Linked DNA regions of Homo sapiens. The protein of the gene in region 3 purifies or fractionates together with the protein of the main gene of each other region. This does not show direct contact. Each region holds a gene or a part of one and is shown on either strand. Other genes may lie near its edges.

Region 1 (3,718 bases), on a different chromosome or scaffold from region 3:
CAGCCTGTGAAAACATTTTGGGAGGGGCGTGTGGGGGCAGAGCTGGGTAGGCGCTTCGACAGGCTTGGAACCGAAGATGAATGCACTCTCCTCCTCTTTCTCTCTGACCCCAGCCTGCCCCTAGGGGCACTGACAGAGGAGCCTGGAGTTCCCCAAGGCTACAGTGTCCCTGGTTCACAGGATTCAGGAAGAAGCCAGGGGGAGGGGGTGGTGGCGCATGTGGCAGGCTGGTGGGATGGGATGGCAGCTGGGTGAGGGTGGAGGTGAAATGACCGAGAGGAGGAGCATGGTATGGGGTATGACAGCCCCAGCTGGGCCCAAGTGCCCAGCCCTGCCCTCTGACTAGCAGCACTGACCTGCTTGTGCACTGCCCGTGGCTTCAGTTCTGGGCTGTCCCCCTTGGAGGAAGAGGACTGCTGCCTCAGGCGGGTACTGGGGCCCACCCAATCAGGTGAGGCCGACGCCAGGGTTCCGCTTGAGGGTCTTGGGTACTGCAGGGTGCTCAGCAGGTTGGGGGGCGTCCGGCCGCGGGGGGCAGGAGGTGGCGGCGGGGGTGGGGGCGGAGGCTGGTCGATCCTCCTCTGGGGGCCAGCACTGTTCTGCCGTGGCACCGTGGGCTGCCCGCCTTTTTCAGTCAGTGACATCTGTCGCCGTGCCAGCTCACCGGGCCGCCGAGCCAGCTCCTCCGCGGCAGTGCTGAAACTTCCCAGCTTGGCAGCAGCCGCCAACTCCTCGCTGTTGCTGTGTGAGCTCAGGGAGCTGTGGCCCTCAGAGCCTGAGTCGCCAAGGCCACGGGGTGACAGCGGCAGGCCAGCCGCCATCTGGTACACAGGGTTCTGGAAGGAGAGCGGTGCCAACAGCTGGGGCCGGCCTGGCGCGCCCTCGGAGGTGCCTGGTGTGGTTGGTGTCTGGCCTGCCCGCCGCACCGTGGCCAGCCCTGCCAGGTTCACTGGGGTTGCCCGGGCCGGCCACCCGGCCACCAGCTGAGCTGCAGCGGCCTGCCCATCTGTGGGGAGGACGTCGGGGCCCGCCGGGGAGCCTGCCTCCCCATCCAGCGTGCGGGCGTCCTGGAGGTCCACCATGGAGAGGCTCTTGCCACCGTTGGCCATCTGAAGATCAGGCTCGTTGGCTTCCGAGTAACTCGAGCTGCGGGCAGGTGAGGGCTGGACCCCGGAGGACCTTGTGACAAAAAACAAGTCCTTGTTTTCGGGGGTTGGAGACGGTAACCGGGTGAAATCTATCAGACTGCAGGGAGACAAGCACACACAGGGAAAGAAGGGGAAAAGAAGAACTGTGAGTGCAGCCAAGGCGGGTCCAAACCGACAGCACCCGCCAACCTGCCGGGGCCTGGCAGCCTGAGCCAGCGCTGGGGAGATGGATGCGCTGGGGTGGCAGGAGTGGGAGAATCCGGGGACCAGAGGCTGAGGCGGCTGCTCCTGCACAGAACCTCTTCTTTAGGGGCCAGCACTGCACATTTCAGGCCGCGCTGCCTGGAAGACCCCTTCCCTGTTCAGCTGCATCTTGGGACAATGGGTACTGGGGCCTGGCTTGCTCTGGAAAACTCCTCCTTAGCTAAGCCCTAAGCCACAACTCAGTGGCTCTCTGCTATCCACGGATCCTGCATTGAGAACCCCAACTTCAGAGTCACTGGGTTCCCTCTGCCTCTTCCCTCTTGTTCCTAATCAGACTGGTAACTGAAGTGGGGGCCCGGTGAAACCTCCTCTTGCCCAGCCTCCTGCTGCCGCTCCCTTGTTTGACTGGCAGGCGGGGGCTGGAGTTCCTGGCAAAAACAAGGAATGAGAGCAGGCTCTGTGGAGAGCATGACTTGGTGGGAGGGCTGCACTTGCCCTGGCCTCCTCCTCATTCTACGCTTTTCTCTGGCCTCTCCCTGGCCCCTCCCCAGAAGCTAGCTCCTTGGAAGAAAGCACAACTGTGGCGGGGTCCAGGGGGGCTTTGGAGAGAAGAATGTGGGTGGGGGGAACTGAAGGCTGCAAGGACTTGGGGGGCTTGATATGGCTTGGAATGGGGAATGGGTTGGCTTAGCCTCAGACGGAGAGGAAGTGCCACTCCCTGAGATGGGCTGCAGTGCTCACGGGCCTGGGAGAACTGGCTAGAGCAGCAGATGAGCCAGGAAAGACGGAGAGCAGTGGGGGCCTGGCTGCCCAGGCCACACACCAGGTCAGTCTTTTCAGAACTCACGGGCCCGGCTGCCTCTCAGCCTCTCAAGGGCTGTCTACTGCACCCCCCACTCCAAACTCTTGGCATGTGACTCTGCTTGTCTTCACTTGGCACACTCACTGAACAGACCCAATGCAAGACTCAGTGGACCTGCATCTCTGGCCCCTCCTGGGCTCCCCTAACCCCAGGTTCTTGATCTCAGCACCCTCCCCTGCTTAAAAGCCTGCCCTGCCACCACCTTGGGGGAGACCACACTCCCAACTCTGCTGCTACAGCTGCGGCCTCACATGCTGGGGTAAGAAGGATCACTGGCGGGAGAGGGGAGAGTAGGGGTAGAGCAGAAATGCTTCAACATGAACTGATAGAAATGTCTCTATTTTGACTTAAACAAGAACATTTTGCCTTCCACTCTGCCGTGTGTGTCTTATTTAGGCAGAGCAGACCCCAGGACTGGGTCTCAGCATCACTTTATGTTTTCTGCTGTTCCCAGCCTCAAAGCCTGGCAGAGCCACCGAATTCCTATTGAAAACACCCCCAACTAAACACTTCTGGAGATTCTGACTCAGGCTCAGGAAATACCAGGAACATGTGTATTTTTAACAAATATCAGGGGATCTGGAAATGCTGGGGGTATTTGGGACCAGCAATTATTCTCTGACACATCATGTCTTTGCTTGTGCTTGTCCCTCTGTCTAGAATGCCTTTTCCACCAATGGAAATGCTACTTTTCCCAAAACAAAACAAACCTATAGCATCACCTCCTCTAGGAAGGCTTCCCTGATTTTTCCCAAATGGAGGTTCACCACTTAGGACCTGTACAACTCAAGTCTTGCCAGGCTTGTTTTATAAACACTATGTAGGCATCCTCTTTCCCCATCTGAGATTACAGATGGGCTGTGCCTAGTCTGCACACGCACCCACCACACCCAACATGGCTGGCAGCTCTTACCCGGAAAGATCGTTCTCAATCACCATCTTCTGCAGCCCAGCTGAGATGCTGCTGCTGCCAGAGCCCGGTGTGGAGGCCAGGTCATTGGTCCCTGGGAGCTGCCCGCTACCTGGGGTGCTCAGTGCTGTGTGGACGTCCCTCAGGATCCGAGGCAGGGGTCCCAGTTTGGATACTATGCTCTGTAAAGGCACAGCAAGAGGCAGGTGTGACCTCCTGGGACCACATGGGTAGGCTGTATGTGCTGCAGCCACTATGGCTCAAAACCACTGCGGAGCCTGTCAGAAGTGCAGATCCCCACCTGCTGCCAGTCAGAGCCACTGGGTCTGGGAGGGGGGTGAGCCCAGGAATCGGTAAATCTACATTTTTAACCAGCTCCCGGACATTTCTAGGGCAGGAGTAGGAGGCCCACAGTGGGAGACGCTGACCTAGTGCAAGCCTCTCCTTCAGTTTGCCCTGCCCTGGTGCCTCCGCAGAGAGGAAAGCACACATGGAATCCCAGCATTTCCACACCTCCACCTCTCCATCCAGAGGCTTCTGTGACAGCCCCTCTCACATCACTTACTCCACGGGATGGGCTGGGGCCTGACCCAC
Region 2 (3,718 bases), on a different chromosome or scaffold from region 3:
TCGAGACCAGCCTGGCCAGCATGGTGAAATGCTGTCTTTACTAAAAATACAAAAAATTAGCCAGGCATAGTAGTGTGTGTCTGTAATCCCAGCTACTTGGGATGCTGAGGCAGGAGAGTCACTTGAACCCAGGAGGCAGAGGTTGCAGTGAGCCAAGATCGCACCACACATTCCAGCCTGGGCGACAGAGCAAGACTCTGCTCAAAAACAAAACAAAACAAAACAAAAAAAACCAAAAAAAACGTGCTGGTCTTTTCCATCTTTAAAACACTGTCTCTACCTAATACCTCTAGCTGCTGTCTTTTCTTGCATGTTACTTTCATAGACAAGCCTCTAAAAACAATTGCTAAAGTTTGGTATGTCCACTTCCTCACCTCACATTTGTTCATTAGCTCCCCTCATCTGTTAGACTCCCCTCATCTGTTAGACTCCTCTCACCAAGTCGTCAATAGCTTTGGAATTTCCAAATCCGTGAACATTTCAGATCTCTCATTCTTCCATATCATTTGAAGCTGTTGATCCCCCTCTCCTGGAAACTCTCCTCTTCCGCATCCCAGTCTCCCATTTCCTCCTGCCTTTCTGCACATCCCCTTCCCTGTTGACTTCACTGGGTTCTCTCCTTCCTTCCCTGAGGTCAGTGTTGTGCCCTAGTACTGCCACTCTCGGAAGCAATCTGGCACATGCCTGGCATCCTGATAGCTGACTTAAAATCCTAGGTCCATGACTTATAGCTGTGTGACCTTGGGCAAATTACTTACCATCTCTGTGCCTAGGTTTACTCAGCTGTAAAATAGGTAAAACAATAGTAGTCCTTCCTAACAATGGTTGTTGAGAGGATTAATACACGTAAAGTGTTTAGAACATACAGTACACACTCAATAAACATTAGCTATTATAATTCCTCTTCCCATACTCCATAACCCTCCGTAACCAACTGATCCATGCCATGACTTCACTACCTTTGGTTAAAGTTTGTTTGTGGGCCGGGCACCGTAGCTCATGCCTGTAATTCTGGCACTTTGGGGGACTGAGGCAGGAGGATCACTTGAGGCCAGAAGTTCAAAACCAGCCTGGTCAACATAGTGAGACCCTGCTCTACAAAAAGTTTTACAAATTAGCTGGACATAGTGGCATATAACTGTAGTCCCAGCTACTCAGGAGGCTGAATCAGGAGGATCACCTGAGCCCAGGGGTTCAAGTTCAAGACTGCAGTGAGCTATGATTGTGCTGCTGCATGCCAGCGTGGTCACAAAGTGAGACTCTGTCTCTTAAAAAAAAAAAAGTTAGCTTTCTTGTAAATCTTGAAGACTTTTCTCGGGAATGTCAAACCTAGAAAACATCTGCCCACTAGCCATCTCTCCCTAACTATCTTAATATTTCAAACTCAACATATCTGAAACTGAGTTCATCATCCTTCCTATAAATGCTGCTCCCTCCTCCCTGTCCCTTCTCTCTCCTAATGAATAGCCCCACTATCCTTCCCACTGGATGCCAGGCCAAAATGTCAGAATCATCCTAGACTCCTGCCCCTCCCTTACTCCCCTGTTCAATCAGTCACCAAATCATGCCAACTTTATTGCCAAAGGCTTTCTTGAGTCTGCCCAATTCTCCACCCTAATTACCAGTGTCTTATTAGAATCTCATTATTTCTCACCTAGATGATAGTAAGTCACAACAATATTAAAAATAATACTGGCCACTAGTATGACTTGCCAATTACAAATAAACCACTGTAGTAGACATTTCCCATACTTCATTGTATGTAACCCTGTCTACCATGCATACCATCCATAAGGGAGGAAGTAGAGTCCACTGTTTTCAGATAAGACAGAGGCTCAGAGACATTTGCTAAACAGCCCAAGTTACAGGGAGTGTGGCTGGGAAGGAGGCTGAGATGTATCTGACTCCAAATCTCAGGCTTTTTCATCCCCTAAACTGCAATAACATGCTAACTGGTCTTTTTGCCACCTATCTTATTCTTCTCCAATATTTACTCTATTGCCAGAACAGTATTAGAACAAAACTTTGACCCAGTCTCTCCTCTGTGTGAAATCCTGCAGTAGCTCCCCACTATCTTCAAAGTAAAATTCCAATTCTCTAACAAATCCAGATGTGATTACCTTGCCCCTTCACAGGCTGACTTCCTTTGTCCCCAGCCATGCCTATCTGCCTTCCCTTCTTGAAGCAGCCCTGGTTTGCTCACCTGGACATGCTGGACTTCTCACCGGCCCATCTGCCTAGGCTCCACTTCTCCTCTCATCAGCCTGGATGCTCCATCTCAGCCTCTTTGATGCATGTTGTCTTGGACTCACCTGCTCTCCAAGCTGAGTTTAGGTGTCCCTCCTGTGGGTGCACATAGCACCCTGTGATTGCCTCTAGTGTGGTACTTTAGGGTAGTACAACATTCATTGATTGAGCATCTGCCATAGGCCAGTTTACAGTAGGCTCTGGTGATTTGGGAATCAACAAGACATATGTCCTGATTTCAGAGAACTTACTGTAATGAGAGATGGACAGCAAAACATTGCATTACTATCTCTGATTTCCTCATCTGTCTCCACACTGGATTGCTGAGCTCCTTGGGCACAAAGAGTATCTTGTTCATCCCTGTTTCCAGAGCCTGGAACTGTGCCTGGCACATGAAGGTGTCAATAAGTGTTGGCAGCTTGAGCTGAGCAGACACACCAAGGCCACCAAGCTGTCTCTGTGAGCACATTAGCACACCCACAGGAACACTTTTACTTTCATGTGTGTCTTTTTCAGACTAAATGTCCAGTCATTGTCTTCTGAAGTTCCACAAGATCCTACAGTGCACCCTGCTTTTGACATGCAGCAGGGTCTAACACTGGAGAATGTCCAGGCCAACCATTCCTGCCCTGTGTGACTGACCCACTAGGAGATTAAAGGACCGAGGTCTCATAGCAAGTAAATGGCATTGCTGACTCTCCTCCAGTGCTCATTCCGCCCACTCTCAGGTTCATAGCGACATCTCAGTGCAGCAAAGAAGGATGCCACTGTCAGAGGTTGCTTGGCCAAGTGGCACTCAGGATGGGGGAACTCAGGAAAGAAATGCTTCTTCCAGTAACAGGCCCTACCCGTCTCCTCCCATGGGCTGCTATGGCCTGTCTTGTCTTGACAAGATGAGTGTGTTTGTGGAGGTGCCCAGAGAAAGACAGCTTTAGGCAGCCCTTTTGATCAAAGTCCCCTTGCAGAAACAAGATCCCCTGAAGTCTGCTCCCTGCAGCTACCACCAGCCCCATCTGAATGACAAGGGCAGGAGGGGGCAAGGCAAAAGGGGAGAGGCTTAAATTACAGCAGGTGTTTTGTAAAGTCTTCTTTTCCTTGCAAGTTTATGGTTGCTTCTCTACTAAGCAGCATTTCCCTCTCCTCTCACCATGGAGGGCAAAGTGCAGGCTGCCTTGGTGATCAAAGAGGGGGCAAGAGGAGGAAGAGAGTTTTTGAACCCCAGAACAAAGAGCATCTCACTGCCCCCAGGCACAGCCTCAGATGCCAGGCTGGGGAGAAGGAAAGGGGGAAAAGCGGGGAGGAAATGGCCATTCCTATCCCAACCACAGCGGCCCACTCTTTCACCTTCTTTTTCGAAAGCAGATTTTCTAAAAGTATCTTTGATGATAACAGCTCTCTGGAGACTATCTGGAGCGGGATAAAGGGCTCAGAGTTTGGTGCCCTGGACCTGATCCTGGCTCTGCCTTTTAGT
Region 3 (4,186 bases):
GCAGAAAAACAAGGGGGAAGTGCTTGCAGGGGTATCTTTCTGCAGAACCAGCAAATCCCCAGAGGAGGCACTCGTGTATTGCTGGTTACAGCTAGATCTGCTCTGCTTGTCAGACGCTGGGGAGATGGTCACACACAAGACTCTGATCACATGTCTTCTTTCCTTGTCCTCAGCTCCCCTTTATCACCCCACCAAGTAGCATCTGATTCCTTCATCCAAGGAAGAAAAAGCTTCCATCTCAAACCCTTTGCAATCAACTAATGCATGTTAGTTATTTTAGAAGTTCCTGAAACTTCCAATTTAAGCTAAGGCTTTGAAGACTTCCAATCAAGTAAAAGACATTTGTGTGTGTGTAAGAGAGAGAGAACTGTGATGTGATACAAGCTATTAATGCAATAAATGTAAAACCTTATGAAATCCAGGAAGATTGTAACCATTCAGCAATAAATATCCACAGCACAGAACAATTTGTGAGTTTAGTATTTTATAAATTATTTCTGAAAGATCTGACAAAAAAGTATTTGCTCAACACAAAAATATATTCACTTCCTTATATCAGTATACACTCTGAGGAGTTTATATCAGCTTTGCCATCAAAAAAGCAAAATGCTGAATAACAGGGAAACCAGTAAAGACACTAGTGCCCAGGAGAGACAGTCATTTGATTTTTAGGCCAAGGAAGGCTGAACAGTGGCCAACTCCGCGTGCTCTCCACCCTCTCTTCTTCATTGGACACTAAACACTAGAGTCAATTCAAGGGTAAATTGCAGTAATATAGATGCTTTACAATTATCCTTTTATAAGAAAGGAAAAAGCTCTGTGCTATTAAATCAATAAAAGTAGACTTAAGAAGACTTGTGAGTCTGTAAAGTGATTAACACAATTCTAATGACCTCTTGCAGCCCTTAATTACAATAATATCTCACGTTGTAAGTGCACAATGCCCTTTTATTAAAGCTGCAAACCTTAATAGCTTTTAGCAGGGTGATGGTCTGTGCTACTGATTATTGTTTTCTTTATTTTTCTTTCCTCAGACAGACTCGGCTAGCTTTCCCAGATAAGACTATTGACGTTGGATGTTACCTAATTGCTCTGCTATCCCACTCCATATTAAACACTAACACAGAAGCAAGACTTCCACAAAGTTGCCAGTCTTCCTACCTGTCTCAATTCTTTTGCATTTTAATTCATACTGTTCAAAATAGCCTTAAAAATAAAGAAAAGGATTCTTCATGCATTTCCCCTTGACATATAGAACAAGAAAATATCCTAGGTAAACCAAAGTCTAACTAGTTCTTTAGGAAAGAAGTAATTCTTGGTGAGTTACTGAACGCTTCAAATGTAATTAATTTTTTTTCTTAGCTCTTTTCTCCCATAACAATTTGCCTTTATAAAGACTCTCTTAAAACTATTTAGATATTGTGTCTATGCAAACTTTCCTTTAGAAAAAAAGACTGCTACTGCTCTTAAACTCTTAAAATACACATTTTTTGTGTGAGGTGTTATCTGCTTTTAAAAATACATACTTGTCACTTGGCAAGGGCCATATATTAACAAGTCACTTACATTTTTCTCTTATTTTTTGTATAAAGTTATGTTTATCTACTTCTCTATGAAAAATGATCTGAACACCTGTCTAGTAGCTACAGAAATTATGAGGACAAGTCTTACGTAAAGGTCTCACTTAATAAACGATCTAATAGAGACAAGATATTTATTGCAAAGCAAAAGATGTTATAAGTACATTCCTCGTTCAATTTGCAGATCTCCAAAGCCTTGATACACCCAATCCTTGATGGTTTCTCAATAGTTTGCCATTTGCCCAGTGCTGGGTGAACTCATTGCCAATCTTTACTCACCTGAACTATGACATTTAAGAAATCCGTAGGGTTAACGATCTAAAACGTGAAGCGGTACAGAATAACGGGTCTTTTCTCATTAATCCACACTGGAAGGTTGAATACCGGCAAGTAGCAGTGTACCATGTGCACCCATGAAGAAGTCCACCATGCATTCAGAGAAGCAGGGCGCCCTTTTCCCAGCGCACACTTAAGGTACTGCCAGGCGGAGGGGACGCAGGATGCAGATGAACCAGATCAGCAGAATACTAATTACAGGGGAAAAAAGCAAAGCACCCTGAAGTGAGCTCCACCTTCACGAAAGGTAAAAGGTGTCCAGAGCGAATGGTTCAAAGGACTCCTGCCCAAAGCGGCGCATACCCCCTTCCAGCCTCAGACCTCTGCAGAACCCGGCGGCACAGCCGGCGCGGAGTTGTGCCCCCATCAGTCCGAGGTTGAGGGAGGAGCCTGCTTGTGGTCCTCTTTGAGGAGAGTGCTCCAGCCTGCCCATGTTTGCCGCTGCACCTGGAGAGTGCCGGGATTTGCTCTTACCCTCAACTACTACTCCTCGTGTCGCACCTGGTGTCTGTCAACACCGGCTTTCCGGGCCAAACGCCCCCGCCTCCGTCCACAAGCCTGTCCTGCCTTGCAGAGCCACATCTCACTGCAACACGCAGTAACTTGGGGACGCCAAGGGAAACTCCACACGGACATCCCCGCCCGCTCTCCGCTCACTGATTAGTCCTGCTTCCAAAGGCGCACAGCAAGGGCGCACATCTGCCCAGCGGCGCCTCCCCAGCCCCGCGCAGGCAGACACACTCACCTGGGGCCTCGCTGCCCTCCCCACGGCGTCAGACGCCAGGGACCCGGGCGTGTGCATCCGAAAGAACGTGCGCTCGGCTGCCGGACGCCCGCGGGCTCTTGGGGACCCAGTGCGCGCAGCTCCGCGCGCGGGGCAGACTGGAGGAACCGGCTCGACACCCGCTCGGGCCCGCCCGGCACGGGCTCCTCCTCCAATCACAGCCCACTCCGCGGTGCGCGGGGACCCTGCCCCGGCCTCGGGCGCCGGGGGCCCGCTGCGTCTGCTCACTGCGAGGGGCCCCTCCGGCTCGCCCGGGCAGCTGAGACGCAGGGTCCGGAGCCAGCGGGAGCGCGCGGCCAGAGAGAGGGCGAGAGGGCGCGCAGGAGAGGAGGAGAGAGCGCGCCGGAGCCGGGGCCGAAGAGGGAGGGGAAGAGGGCGACGATGGTGGGCGGCGGGCGCCTGCTGTCAGCGCTGTCGGAGGCCGGCCCAGGGAGCCACTGAGACTTCGGCGCCTCCCAGAGACCCGGTGGGGGCTACTGGAAAAGAACGCGAAGACGGAGCCGCTCGGCCGCCACGCGCGCACACACACACGCGCGCACCCTCGCGCACCCTCCTCCACCTCCCGCCTGGCGGATCTGTACAGATGGATTCCTTCGCAGGAAAATAAAGAAGAGGGGTGAAAGTAGGAGGGGCTGCAGCCCATCCATCTCTCCGTGAGGCATTTGCATCTGAAAGCACGGAGCTGGAGGAGAGTTTTGAGGGTATTTTCAAGCTGCCCCTCCAACACCCACCTTAGCCTGTCGTGAAAGCCGTGATCAGTTGAGCTCCTGAGGCATGAAGGCAAAGTCATAAAACTAATCAGAACTTACAGTTTTCTTGCTTGATAGTTTTGCCCTTTCAATCTCCTCGGACTGCCCTAGTTCTACTTTTTTTTTTTTTTTTTTTTTAACTTGCAGACAATTTTCTCCCCTGCTGGGCTCTCTAATGCTAAACTTCCAAAGTGTATGATTTACTCGCAGTGCGGGACAGAGGACCCTTGCAAGGTGTGGAAGGAAGGAAAGAAGGAAGGAAGAGGATCTGGTCTTTTCTTTAGAGCGCGGTGCAGCCCCTGGAGTTGAGCACGCTTTGTTTTCCCCTGCTCTGGTGCTCGCTTTAATCTGATGACTGGGTGTTCTGTCATAGGGGTTAGGAGGGGGAAGAGATCATTTCCAACTACCTTCCTTTCATTTTTCTCACTCTACCAATGGAAAGTGTCCTCTTTCTCTTACGCACTTATTCTTACTTAACCTTAGCAGTAATTCTTCGGATACCAGTTACATGGGCTTAGGCTTGTCCGTACCATTATCTCTGATTTCTTGTGCAGTCAAGCACACTTTTCTGTCCCCAGTCCAGCCTCTCCTGGCTATTTAACTGGCGCCATGCCTCCCCCACCTCGCCCATTCAATTTAGTCAATGTTTAAAACCGAATTCTATGCTAATAATTCTGACAGCAATTATGGACTCCTGTTAAGTTCCAGATACCATCCTATGTTGCTTACCTAACATT

Evidence for each region.
Region 1: the proteins of CDH7 (region 3) and DAB2IP fractionate together in Homo sapiens (co-fractionation; one large-scale study listed by BioGRID). This does not show direct contact.
Region 2: the proteins of CDH7 (region 3) and EVA1A fractionate together in Homo sapiens (co-fractionation; one large-scale study listed by BioGRID). This does not show direct contact.

Annotation. Positions count from the first base shown.
Region 1 is NC_000009.12:121,770,134-121,773,851, reverse strand, and holds part of DAB2IP (disabled homolog 2-interacting protein), read right to left. Parts: intron 3,307-3,718; coding exon 3,128-3,306; intron 1,246-3,127; coding exon 357-1,245; intron 1-356. UniProt on the Homo sapiens protein: Functions as a scaffold protein implicated in the regulation of a large spectrum of both general and specialized signaling pathways.
Region 2 is NC_000002.12:75,550,918-75,554,635, forward strand, and holds part of EVA1A (protein eva-1 homolog A), read right to left. Parts: intron 1-3,718. UniProt on the Homo sapiens protein: Acts as a regulator of programmed cell death, mediating both autophagy and apoptosis.
Region 3 is NC_000018.10:65,749,626-65,753,811, reverse strand, and holds the start of CDH7 (cadherin-7 isoform 1 preproprotein), read right to left. Parts: upstream 2,801-4,186; 5' UTR 2,662-2,800; exon of another isoform or gene 1,860-2,661; intron 1-1,859. UniProt on the Homo sapiens protein: Cadherins are calcium-dependent cell adhesion proteins. They preferentially interact with themselves in a homophilic manner in connecting cells; cadherins may thus contribute to the sorting of heterogeneous cell types.